2 separate regions of the Homo sapiens genome follow, and region 2 is linked to region 1. The links come from fine-mapping of genetic effects on gene expression. A gene starts in region 1. The other region holds a variant in brackets. All regions are shown on one strand. Distances are between the middles of the regions. Region 1 holds the start of CEBPD (CCAAT enhancer binding protein delta). Region 2 overlaps SPIDR (scaffold protein involved in DNA repair).

Region 1 (5,370 bases):
GAGGCAGGAGAATCGCTTGAACCCGGGAAGCGGACGTTGCAGTGAGCTGAGATCGCGCCACTGCACTCAAGCCTGGCGACAGAGCAAGACTCCGTCTCAAAAATAAAGATAAAAATAAAAATAAAATGTAACTATATTGACTATCGGAATCAGTAAATCATCTCACTGAAAATAGTCTCTGAGTTGTTTTTAGGAGGATATGGTTATCCCTTATAAATATTGATTTTGCATTCCCTAAGTGATTAGGGAGGGCTTTAATAGTGTTTCTATGGCTTCTGAAATATATGAGAACAAAACAATTTGTGCTAGAACTTTTTCTGGATGTGCGTAAGTCCACACTCTATGCATTGCTGGATTTCAGTCTTAATAGGTAATTAATTGTGTGACATCATCATTGTGTACCCTCTGAGTAACTCTAAAGAAATATGTTTGTTCTTTAGGAAACCTATTAAATATCCCATAGTGCAACGTTAGAAATGACCTCTGGAACTGACTGCAGAAACTGCACAGCAGTTAGTAGAGCTTGGTGTTCCGACGCAGATCTGGTGAGAGGCCTGCGCAGGAAGAGACTCGACATGGAGCAGGTGTGACTAGCGATAGTGATTTAATGGATTTGGGCCCGACATGGTGGCTCACGCCTGTAATCCCAGCACTTTGGGAGGCTGAGGCCGGCGAATCTCTTAAGCCCAGGAGTTTGAAACCAGCCTGGACAATATTGTGAGATCCCATCTCAATTTTTTTTTTGAGATGGAGTCTCGCTCTGTCGCCCAGGCTGGAGTGCAATGGAACGATCTCGGCTCACTGCAACCTCCGCCTCCCGGGTTCAAGCGATTCTCCTGCCTCAGCCTCCCGAGTAGCTGGGATTACAGGCGCACGCCACTACGCTTGGCTAATTTTTGTATTTTTAGTAGAAATGGGGTTTCACCATGTTGACCAGGCTGGTTTCAAACTCCTGACCTCAAGTGATCCGCCCACCTCAGCCTCCCAAAATGCTGGGATTACCGGCATGAGCCACTGTGCTCGGCTGAAAAAAACCATATTTTTAATTTAAAATAATAAATGGGTCTGACCAGAAATGCCTGCCTCAAATTGCAGGACACATGACAAAGCCCATTCTTACTTAAGACATTTTCAGTGTGCGATGGGTCTACCGGGATGTAACCCCATCGTGAGTCGAGGCCCATCTGCACCCTGCTATAGCTACTGGTAGATCTTACCTGTTTCCCAAAAAGGACCCAACTACTTTAGGTTCAAGGCACTTTTTTGGAATATTTAACAGGGAAAGAGCCTGGAACTAAAAACAGGTCTAACGCAAGATGCCGCCACACGATGGCACTGCTTCCGTAGACCTGGAAGAAACGCGGGCGCGGGAGCTGGCGGCGGACGCCCGGGTCTGCGGGGTCGGGGAGTAGCGTCCGGCCGGAGAGCCCGCACCTCGAGGAGCCGGCGGAGGACGCGGTGTCGTGACCGCGTCTCCCCCATCTGCTCTGCTTTTGGCGACAGCGTCCCGTCGGCCTTTCGGCCAGGACGCAGCAGCCGCGTCTCTGGGCCTCGACCCCCAGGGCCGGCCGGACCCGGGACCTCCGAGGAGAGCAGCGAGAACCGGCCCGGATTCCCCGAGGCGCCCGAGTGCGGTGCGGGCAGCCCTCCCCGCCTGCCAGGCCGCCGCTGTCCCCACGTCTGGTCCCCCACGCCTCTTCCCGCATCTGGTCCCACGGTGGAGGCGCGGGGCGAGGGCCTCACGCGCGTGCCCACGGTCGGGGGGCGTCCTTGGACGCGCGGGTCCTCTCCCACGGGTCTCCACCCCCCGCCCTCCGGCGACAGGAGCCGGCCTGGGACGCGCGCGCTGCGGCCAAGTCCTGGTTTTGATTTCACTCCCAACCCCGAGGAGCGAGGAGGTTCCAAGCCCACAAACAGGAAGAAGAGAAGGCCCTGGAGTGCTGGCAGAGGGAGTGTCATTCCCAGCAGCGCAGCGCAGGCCGGCCCGGGCCGGGGAGGGAGCAGCAGCGCGGGCACCCTCCTGCAACGTGGGCTGGGGGTCCCCAGGGCCGGGGAGGGGGCCCCGGGGAGGAACTGAGAGGGGGCGCGCCCCGGGAAGGCTCGGGGCGGCTCCGGGGGGCTCCCAGGGCGCCCCCGCCCCTTCCCCCGCGGCCCCGGGGCGCCCCCGCGGTGCCGGAGTCGGGGCGGGGCGTGCACGTCAGCCGGGGCTAGAAAAGGCGGCGGGGCTGGGCCCAGCGAGGTGACAGCCTCGCTTGGACGCAGAGCCCGGCCCGACGCCGCCATGAGCGCCGCGCTCTTCAGCCTGGACGGCCCGGCGCGCGGCGCGCCCTGGCCTGCGGAGCCTGCGCCCTTCTACGAACCGGGCCGGGCGGGCAAGCCGGGCCGCGGGGCCGAGCCAGGGGCCCTAGGCGAGCCAGGCGCCGCCGCCCCCGCCATGTACGACGACGAGAGCGCCATCGACTTCAGCGCCTACATCGACTCCATGGCCGCCGTGCCCACCCTGGAGCTGTGCCACGACGAGCTCTTCGCCGACCTCTTCAACAGCAATCACAAGGCGGGCGGCGCGGGGCCCCTGGAGCTTCTTCCCGGCGGCCCCGCGCGCCCCTTGGGCCCGGGCCCTGCCGCTCCCCGCCTGCTCAAGCGCGAGCCCGACTGGGGCGACGGCGACGCGCCCGGCTCGCTGTTGCCCGCGCAGGTGGCCGCGTGCGCACAGACCGTGGTGAGCTTGGCGGCCGCAGGGCAGCCCACCCCGCCCACGTCGCCGGAGCCGCCGCGCAGCAGCCCCAGGCAGACCCCCGCGCCCGGCCCCGCCCGGGAGAAGAGCGCCGGCAAGAGGGGCCCGGACCGCGGCAGCCCCGAGTACCGGCAGCGGCGCGAGCGCAACAACATCGCCGTGCGCAAGAGCCGCGACAAGGCCAAGCGGCGCAACCAGGAGATGCAGCAGAAGTTGGTGGAGCTGTCGGCTGAGAACGAGAAGCTGCACCAGCGCGTGGAGCAGCTCACGCGGGACCTGGCCGGCCTCCGGCAGTTCTTCAAGCAGCTGCCCAGCCCGCCCTTCCTGCCGGCCGCCGGGACAGCAGACTGCCGGTAACGCGCGGCCGGGGCGGGAGAGACTCAGCAACGACCCATACCTCAGACCCGACGGCCCGGAGCGGAGCGCGCCCTGCCCTGGCGCAGCCAGAGCCGCCGGGTGCCCGCTGCAGTTTCTTGGGACATAGGAGCGCAAAGAAGCTACAGCCTGGACTTACCACCACTAAACTGCGAGAGAAGCTAAACGTGTTTATTTTCCCTTAAATTATTTTTGTAATGGTAGCTTTTTCTACATCTTACTCCTGTTGATGCAGCTAAGGTACATTTGTAAAAAGAAAAAAAACCAGACTTTTCAGACAAACCCTTTGTATTGTAGATAAGAGGAAAAGACTGAGCATGCTCACTTTTTTATATTAATTTTTACAGTATTTGTAAGAATAAAGCAGCATTTGAAATCGCCCCTGCTTCCTATATTCGCAGTGACTCCCGCCCGCCCGCCGGTGGCGCAGGACCCGGCTCGGGAAGGGTGCGTTCCGGACCCGCAGCCAGCGAGCACCAGGGAGCCCGGGCGCCAGGTGTGTGTGTGGGGGGGGCGGGGGGATGGGGCGCAGGCCCGAGCTACTCAGGAGAGAGGGTCTGTCGCTTTTAAAACGCATTAAAGGCTCTCTCCTGGCCTTATTTAACTTGCCTAAGCTAGGTGGAGCACGGCTGAGCTCAGGTAAGCTAGCAGCTTTCCAGCAGAAGGTGTTCTCCCGAAGAACGCAGACCTGGGGAAGGGTTGACTTTTTGGGGGCCCCTGCTGAGAACAGTTCAAGAGCTCCCTAACTGTAGAGGCTGCTGGAGGGGCGAGGGGCAGAACCCCGGGCTGAATCATCTCCCGCTTTCCCGGGACTTTGCTTTCACTTTCCTCAGTCTTGTGGACAGAGTCAAGTAGATTTTCAAAAGTGCTCCAGAAAGGCCGGAATAGTCATGTAGTGGATGAAAAGGGCAGTCACAAAACTGCTTAAGACCAGCTGTCTTGCCAGTAATTGCAGTGCTTTAAGATTTAATTAAAAAGCCGCCTGCCTTTAACCCAAGAACACTTGGTATTAGGGCACCATGTCTTGGTCACGGCTGCTACGTGTATCTGATGTAGTTAACCATGGCCTGTCATGATTATATTGCTATAAGGAAGGGAACAAAATCTTTATAGTGTCCAAAGATAATTAATTCTTGGTTTAAATCTTTGCCAGCAAAGCAAATATCCGACTGACTGCTCCTTAGTCTGTGATCTTTGCTCTCCGTGCACATTACCCAGCCTAATTAAAACAGGTGTGTGTGGTGGAGCCAGCTATCCCCACCACCATTCAGCAGAGACACGATCACACCAGTTCAGAGAGCTACACTTTATGGGTAACAGTTTCACCTGTGATACAGTTCCCTAGAACATTTTCCCAAAAGTAGTGAACTGCAAAGTGCTTAGGTTTGACATTTATTGTAGCAGAACAGTAATATCACAGTATGGGACAAAGGTTTACACTTTGCAGGGTATTCTTTGGGGGAATGTTAAATACTGTAATAAAAACATGTTCAATCATGGTAAAATGTTCAACTTGTTAAAATTACAAATGAACAAAAAAAATTTTTTTCTCATATATTGCCTAAATACCAAATGAAGAGCTTAAACTTAAGATTCAATGTGAAAACGAGTAAATATGTTCCTAAATTTGCAGAAAATAAAAGATAAACTGTAGAAAAAGGTATTTTGATTTACAGTTCACAAAACTGTATCTGAACATTTCCCCAGAAAAATCTAAGTTTCATTTCAAGATCGTAAACTACGTTCACTGTGTCCATAGTTAACAAATAACTACCCCAAATCACCACCACCACCACCACCCTTGCAGCCACATTGCAAAGTTCACAGATCCTGCGGCAACCGCTAGTGTTCTGCAGAGGCCCCTCCTGCACTCAGAAGCTCGATTTCCTCCAATCCAATGCAGCTGGTCGGGTGGGCGGTTACGGACTGGACAAAACAATTTAACAACCCCACTTCCTTTCCGAGGACACTCTTCACTTCGTAGCTCTGCAGTGATAAAAGGCACGCTGGTTAAAGCAAACAGCCTGGGACGTACTGTTCCCAACAACACGGAAAACCAGAGAGCCAGAGTGGAAGGCCCTTTCCCCAGTCCACGACCTTCCACTCCTCAAATGGCTGAGAACAGTGGTAGGAAGGAGAAACAAATGAAGAGCCACTACACACACACACACACACACACACCCACACACACACACACCCACACACCCATTTATTTTAGCAAGTGAAGGAACTACCCCATTCTGGTAACTGAATTGTTTTTA
Region 2 (5,370 bases), 210 kb after region 1:
GTTTATTTGCCTGTCATTTGCTCCAATTTGGGGGGCAGCTGTTTGTTCTGTGACAATTCTCTGATGAAGCTAAAAACCATTGATTTTTAGTTTGTTCAACTTTTTCTTATTGTGAAGACAGGAATGACAACTTCCACCTGCCTTATATGCCAGACTAGAAACCAGAAGTCAGAACTCCTGCTTTGGACTGCTTCATTTTGACCTATTTAAACACTGTCTTGTTACAGTTCCTGGATGTTCAGTTGCCACATCCCTGCAGCACCCTGCAGTTAGCTCTGGGAATCTCCTGAACGGTTTCATTTCTGTACATTTGGTTCCTCTAAACACCAGGCAGCTGAATGCACCATCTCCATAAAACAGCCAAGAAGAAGCAGGGTTCATTTTTTTTCTTTTTGCTCGTGGTCTGCCACTATGTGACAGTTACATGGTTTTTAAGGCTTCTTAGCCAATGAAGACTAGATTTTGCTCCCTGTGACCAAAATCCATGCCTTAAATTTTCTGATTTCTCTCTTAGCACCTAGCAAAGTAACAGTAAGGTAGCAGGACTCTGCTCTTTGTTAATAGTAAACTCAAAATTTATTGATGTTTAATCTGGCTCTAATCCAATGGACCAGACCAGAATTAAATAACCAAGAACAGTGAGAAATGCACATGTTGTGATGTCAGCAAGGCCACTTGCTGACCCCAGGCATCATTGCAATGTTCCTTATTTCAGTACTGGATGCACTGCCTCAGTGTGAGGAAGCTGAGCCTGGGAACAGCCCCACAACAGAACATCTTTCCTTTCTGTCCCTTCCGCAAATTCAGAGGCTCTAAGTTTAACTCAGGGGAATACAAGATTCGTAAGGACACATAGGCTGGTGCCACTATATGCTTCTGGATTCCTTCTGATCCACACTATGCTAAGTTTTGCCAGGTATCTTAAGGGGTGGCTGGAACTACACTGAGCAGATTGCATCACATTTTCTACAACTGCAGGGAAAAGGGGTAAGCCCCCCACACTTCCCACAAATCCAGACAGCATGTACACAACCTGGTGTTCTCTCAGGACAACTCAGTAGGCACAGCCAGGTCCAACTAGCCAGCAGTGCTACCACCGTGCCTTGTGATTTTTTTTTTTTTTTTTTTGAGGCAGGGTCTCACTCTGTCTACCCAGGGTGGAGTGCAGTGGCTTCTGGGCTCAAGCGATTCTCCTGCCTGAGCTGCCTGAGTAGTTGAGACTAAAGGCGTATGCCACCACGTCTGGCTAATTTTTGTATTTTTGGTAGAGATGGGGTTTCACCATGTTGGCCAGGCTGGTCTCGAACTCCTGACCTCAGGTGATCCGCCCACCCTGGCCTCCCAAAATGCTGGGATTACAGGCGTGAGCCACCGCGCCCAGCTGTGACCTCTTTTTATAAGTTCTTTCTTCATACAGAAAACTTTGGAAAGAGGGAGAACATAAAATTTTCTAAGTTTTCACCTATGTTGGTTAAAGAAAAAGAAAGTAGGTTATTCAGTTAGTAATGCCAAAGCTAGAACCATAGAAAGAAAGATACTTTTTTTCCTTTTGTTTTCCAGGCTCCTATTCTGGTAAATGGACTATCAGGATTCTCCACAGAATCTTGTGACGACAAGGCAGCAAGCAGCTGCCCTTTGGCACAACATGTAAATGAACTCAGTCACCCCCTGGGTTTTTCCCTCTTCTTTCCCTGCTCTTTAGGAGGACACAGAATCATAGGGAGTAACTAGCTGAAGTTTGCTCTGTACTTTAACAGCAGGCAGGAAGCCAAACTGCAAATACAATGACCAGATTCAGTTTTCAAGCAAACACTGGAACTGAATTCACCCTAGTCCGGGAAGAATGCCTCGGATCAGAACTAGCAGGAAATCCAATTCAAAACAGGGTGTGTCATCCCTAATTCATAGTGTGGCCTTTACACCTTTCATGAAGTCCTTTGGAAATAAAAGCTTCCTTCTGTAAAAGATCTCCCCTAAAAACTACATTTTACTAAATTGTATCAGAAATCTCTTGCAGGAGATATCTTAATTCCCAAGACCAGCACCCTTGGTACAAAGTGTTAGCTCCACTCTTTCTCCTTTGAATACTGAGTATTAAACTTTTAGAATTTATTAATAATTACTTAGTTCTCCCAATTCCCTTCCAACCTCTGAGTGTTCTCTGACATCATGCAGTAGCAACTCCTTTCTTGTTCTCTGGGTCACTTGAATAACTTAATATGAAAATGCTTTGAGACCTTCAGAGAATCAGGACAGTCGCATACTTTGGCCCAGGCACCCGCAAGACGTGCCAGGAGGTTTACGTGCCTGTCTCTCTGCCTCTAGCTGGCTGGGGTTGTCCCACGGCTCTGAGGAGGGACACACGCAAATGCTGAGAGCCTGCAGTTCCTCGGGGGTGGTCAGGAGAGTACAGGACCTGCTGCCCATGGCTGACCTACCAAAATAGTGCTGCGACTATAGGATCCCAGAGGGGCTGCAGTTAGGCATGTGAAACAGTGAGCCACATGCCAAATACACACATTTTAATCTGGATGTACATGGGAGGAGAGTATATGAGAAATGACGAAGCACAGGCTTCCTAAACTGGTTTAGGAGAAGAGGAGGAGGAGATTTCTCATCCACACAATGACAGTACTTTTTATGTTAATTCTTAGTTTGCATAATCTAGTTTCAGGTGGAGAGTCGCCTGATTTACCTAATAAAATACAGGATGCCCAGGTAAATGTAAATTTCAGATAAACAATGAATAATTTTTTTAGCATACATGTGCCTGATAGTTTATCTAAAGTTTACATTTACCTGGCACCCTTTATTTCATTTGGTAACCTAACTCAGATGTCAATTCTAATTAATTCATCTCTAAAATAACTTTTGGTGGTATTTTAGAAGCTACCACACCAGGTATCCTTCCGACACTTCAGGACACTTAATCTGTCATTGTGTTTTTTCATAGGTGTGTGGACAAAACTGCCATCTCCTCACCTCATACGGGAAAACAGAGAGGCCTGCAGTTCTGTGGGAAGACTTCAAAACAGCTCTCAAAAAGTAAAATTGTATCACCAGAGAAACTGGGTTATGTAATGGTGCATACCACACTTCTGTTTTCCTGAGGAAGTTA[G/TTAG]CACTTCTTATTGAGAAGGCTGCGGCCTGATCATGCTGTTATTACCACTAAAAAACAAAAATCTGTGAGGCCCCCAGAGGCTGCCCAGCACTATGTAACAGGGAAAAGAGAGGCAGGCCTGGGTGCAGGGTGGTCGCATCCATGATCCAGCCTGACCCCCATCACCAGCCGGCAGGGAGACAGACTCACACTGAAGATAAAGCAGAGCTGCTGTACTGGCTGGACTTGAGGTGGTTTAAGTTGGCAGCTACATCGAAGGACTTCTGAAAAGCTCAAGTGACAGTTACACCTTTGCACTCTCCACATTCAGCTGGCCTTTTCCCTCAAAACATGGATAATCTTCAAACCTCCCTGAACAGGTGGAAATGCGTCTTTCCTCTAAGCCAAGTTCTCAGTCCACATTAGTCCATACTTGGCTACAGAATTGACGTTTGTGGCCACAATCCTACTAGAAATGACCTTTGGGTAATATCCTTATCTTGTTGATCTAGTTAGGGTCAAGTAAAACGAAATAGGTTTTCAATCAAATACTAAGAAGCTCACAAAATGGAATTTAGGTGAAAACACACCAAAGTAGTATTAAAGTTCAAATTCCAAAAGAAATACTTGCATTAAAAAAGAAAAGCCATGCATGGTGGCTCGCTATGCCTGTAGTCCCAACAATTCGAGGTGGGAGGATTGCCTGAGCCTGGGAGGTCGAGGCTGCAGTGAGCTGAGATTGTGACACTGTACTCCAGCCTGGGGGACAGGGTGAGACCCTCGCTCAAAAAATAAAATAAAATAAAATAAATAAATAAAAAATAGAAAGAAAGAAAGCAAACCACACACACACATACAACAAAAAAAGATCACTTTAAATCTTTAAACTATTCCTTTCAAAACAATGTGACAGAAACATCATCAGGTTACTAGAGATTTCACAAATAATGCATAATAAAGAGCTTTCTCAGAAACAGAGTACTACCACCTAATGAAAAAATAAAACCTATCCAAAACCAAGAATCTTCAGTAAATAAAATGCTTTTAGCATTAAAAACTAATAAGATAGCTTTAAAAACCATGTTTTTAAAAATTGCAACAAATACTTCTTACTTTTAACTGTCTTTTTTAACAGAGCAAAGCAATGGAATATTGTGCATCCCACACAGTGACATTGTGTGATTTTGGGTAGGAACACATTTGAACCCTAACCAACCTTGGCAGGAGGAGAGGGTGAGGGAGTCATTTGACCTGGGGTCATGCTGGTAACCGGGACATAGAGACTTCCTCTTTCCCTCTGAGCTCACAGGCCCTTCCCATTTCCACACTGGCTCGGATCCTTCAGCAGCCTTTCCTGCTGCTGACAACCAAATGGAGAAAATAAATGAATTTTAAAACAGTTATTTTCTTCACAGATTTAGGGAAAGACACCATGGGAGGGAAAACACATGTGGGTAAATACAAAATACAGTTACATATTTATTGTGGATGCTGCAGAAACCCCAGAGTCAAAGCACATGCTCCATTGGGAAGAGTGGCGCACAGGAGGAGAGGCTGACCCCTTCAGTATCACAGTTCTTTTTCTCCTGCTCATTCATGTTTCTTTTTTTCTTTTCTTTTTTTTTTTTTTTTGAGACAGACTCTCGCTCTTGTCGCCCAAGCTGCCAGGCTGGAGTACAGTGGCACGATCTCGGCTCACTGCAATCTCTGTCTCTCAGGTTCAAGCGATTCTCCTGCCTCAGCCTTCCCAGTAGCTGGGATTACAGGCACCTGCCACCATGCATGGCTAATTTTTGTATTTTTAGTAGACACGGGGTTTCACCATGTTGGCCAGGCTGGTCTCGAACTCCTGACCTCAAGTGATCCACCCGCCTCCGCCTCCCCAAGTGCTGGGATTATAGGCATAAGCCATCGTGCCTGGCCTCATTCATATATTTCTAAGAACTAGGAACATATTTCATTAACACAAAACACTCCCCAATCTTGTTGATTAGATTTCAAAACTAACTGGAAGAATTCCAAATGCAAAATGGATCTCTCTTCTAAGCTGTCTTGAGTAGAGGAAAATAAAAAAATAAAGAGTGGCCAGGCGCGGTGGCTCACGCCTGTAATCCCAGCACTTTGGGAGGCTGAGGTGGGCGGATCACGAGGTCAGGAGTTCAAGACCAGCCTGGCCAACATGGTGAAACCCCATCTCTACTAAAAACACAAAAATTAGCTGGGCATGGTGGTGCGTGCCTGTAATCCCAGCTACTCCGGAGGCTAAGGCAGGA

What was found.
Region 2: its variant is fine-mapped to the expression of CEBPD in whole blood (TOPMed, PIP above 0.99).

Annotation. Positions count from the first base shown.
Region 1 is chr8:47,735,032-47,740,401 of GRCh38, reverse strand. CEBPD (CCAAT enhancer binding protein delta) reads left to right here and starts at 2,238. Exons shown (of 1, transcript NM_005195.4): 1 at 2,238-3,489. The coding sequence starts at 2,282. The coding sequence ends at 3,091. SPIDR (scaffold protein involved in DNA repair) reads right to left here. Exons shown (of 20, transcript NM_001080394.4): 20 at 4,096-5,095. The coding sequence ends at 4,952. RefSeq lists silencers at 1,410-1,879, 1,970-2,049, 2,090-2,199, 2,690-2,879 and an enhancer at 2,276-3,214.
Region 2 is chr8:47,521,532-47,526,901 of GRCh38, reverse strand. The region is part of intron 8 of SPIDR (scaffold protein involved in DNA repair); the gene reads right to left. Among named protein-coding and RNA genes, the nearest start is that of CEBPD, 210 kb to the left of the region's middle. RefSeq lists an enhancer at 1,842-2,815. The variant G/TTAG (reference allele first, on the strand shown) is at 3,119.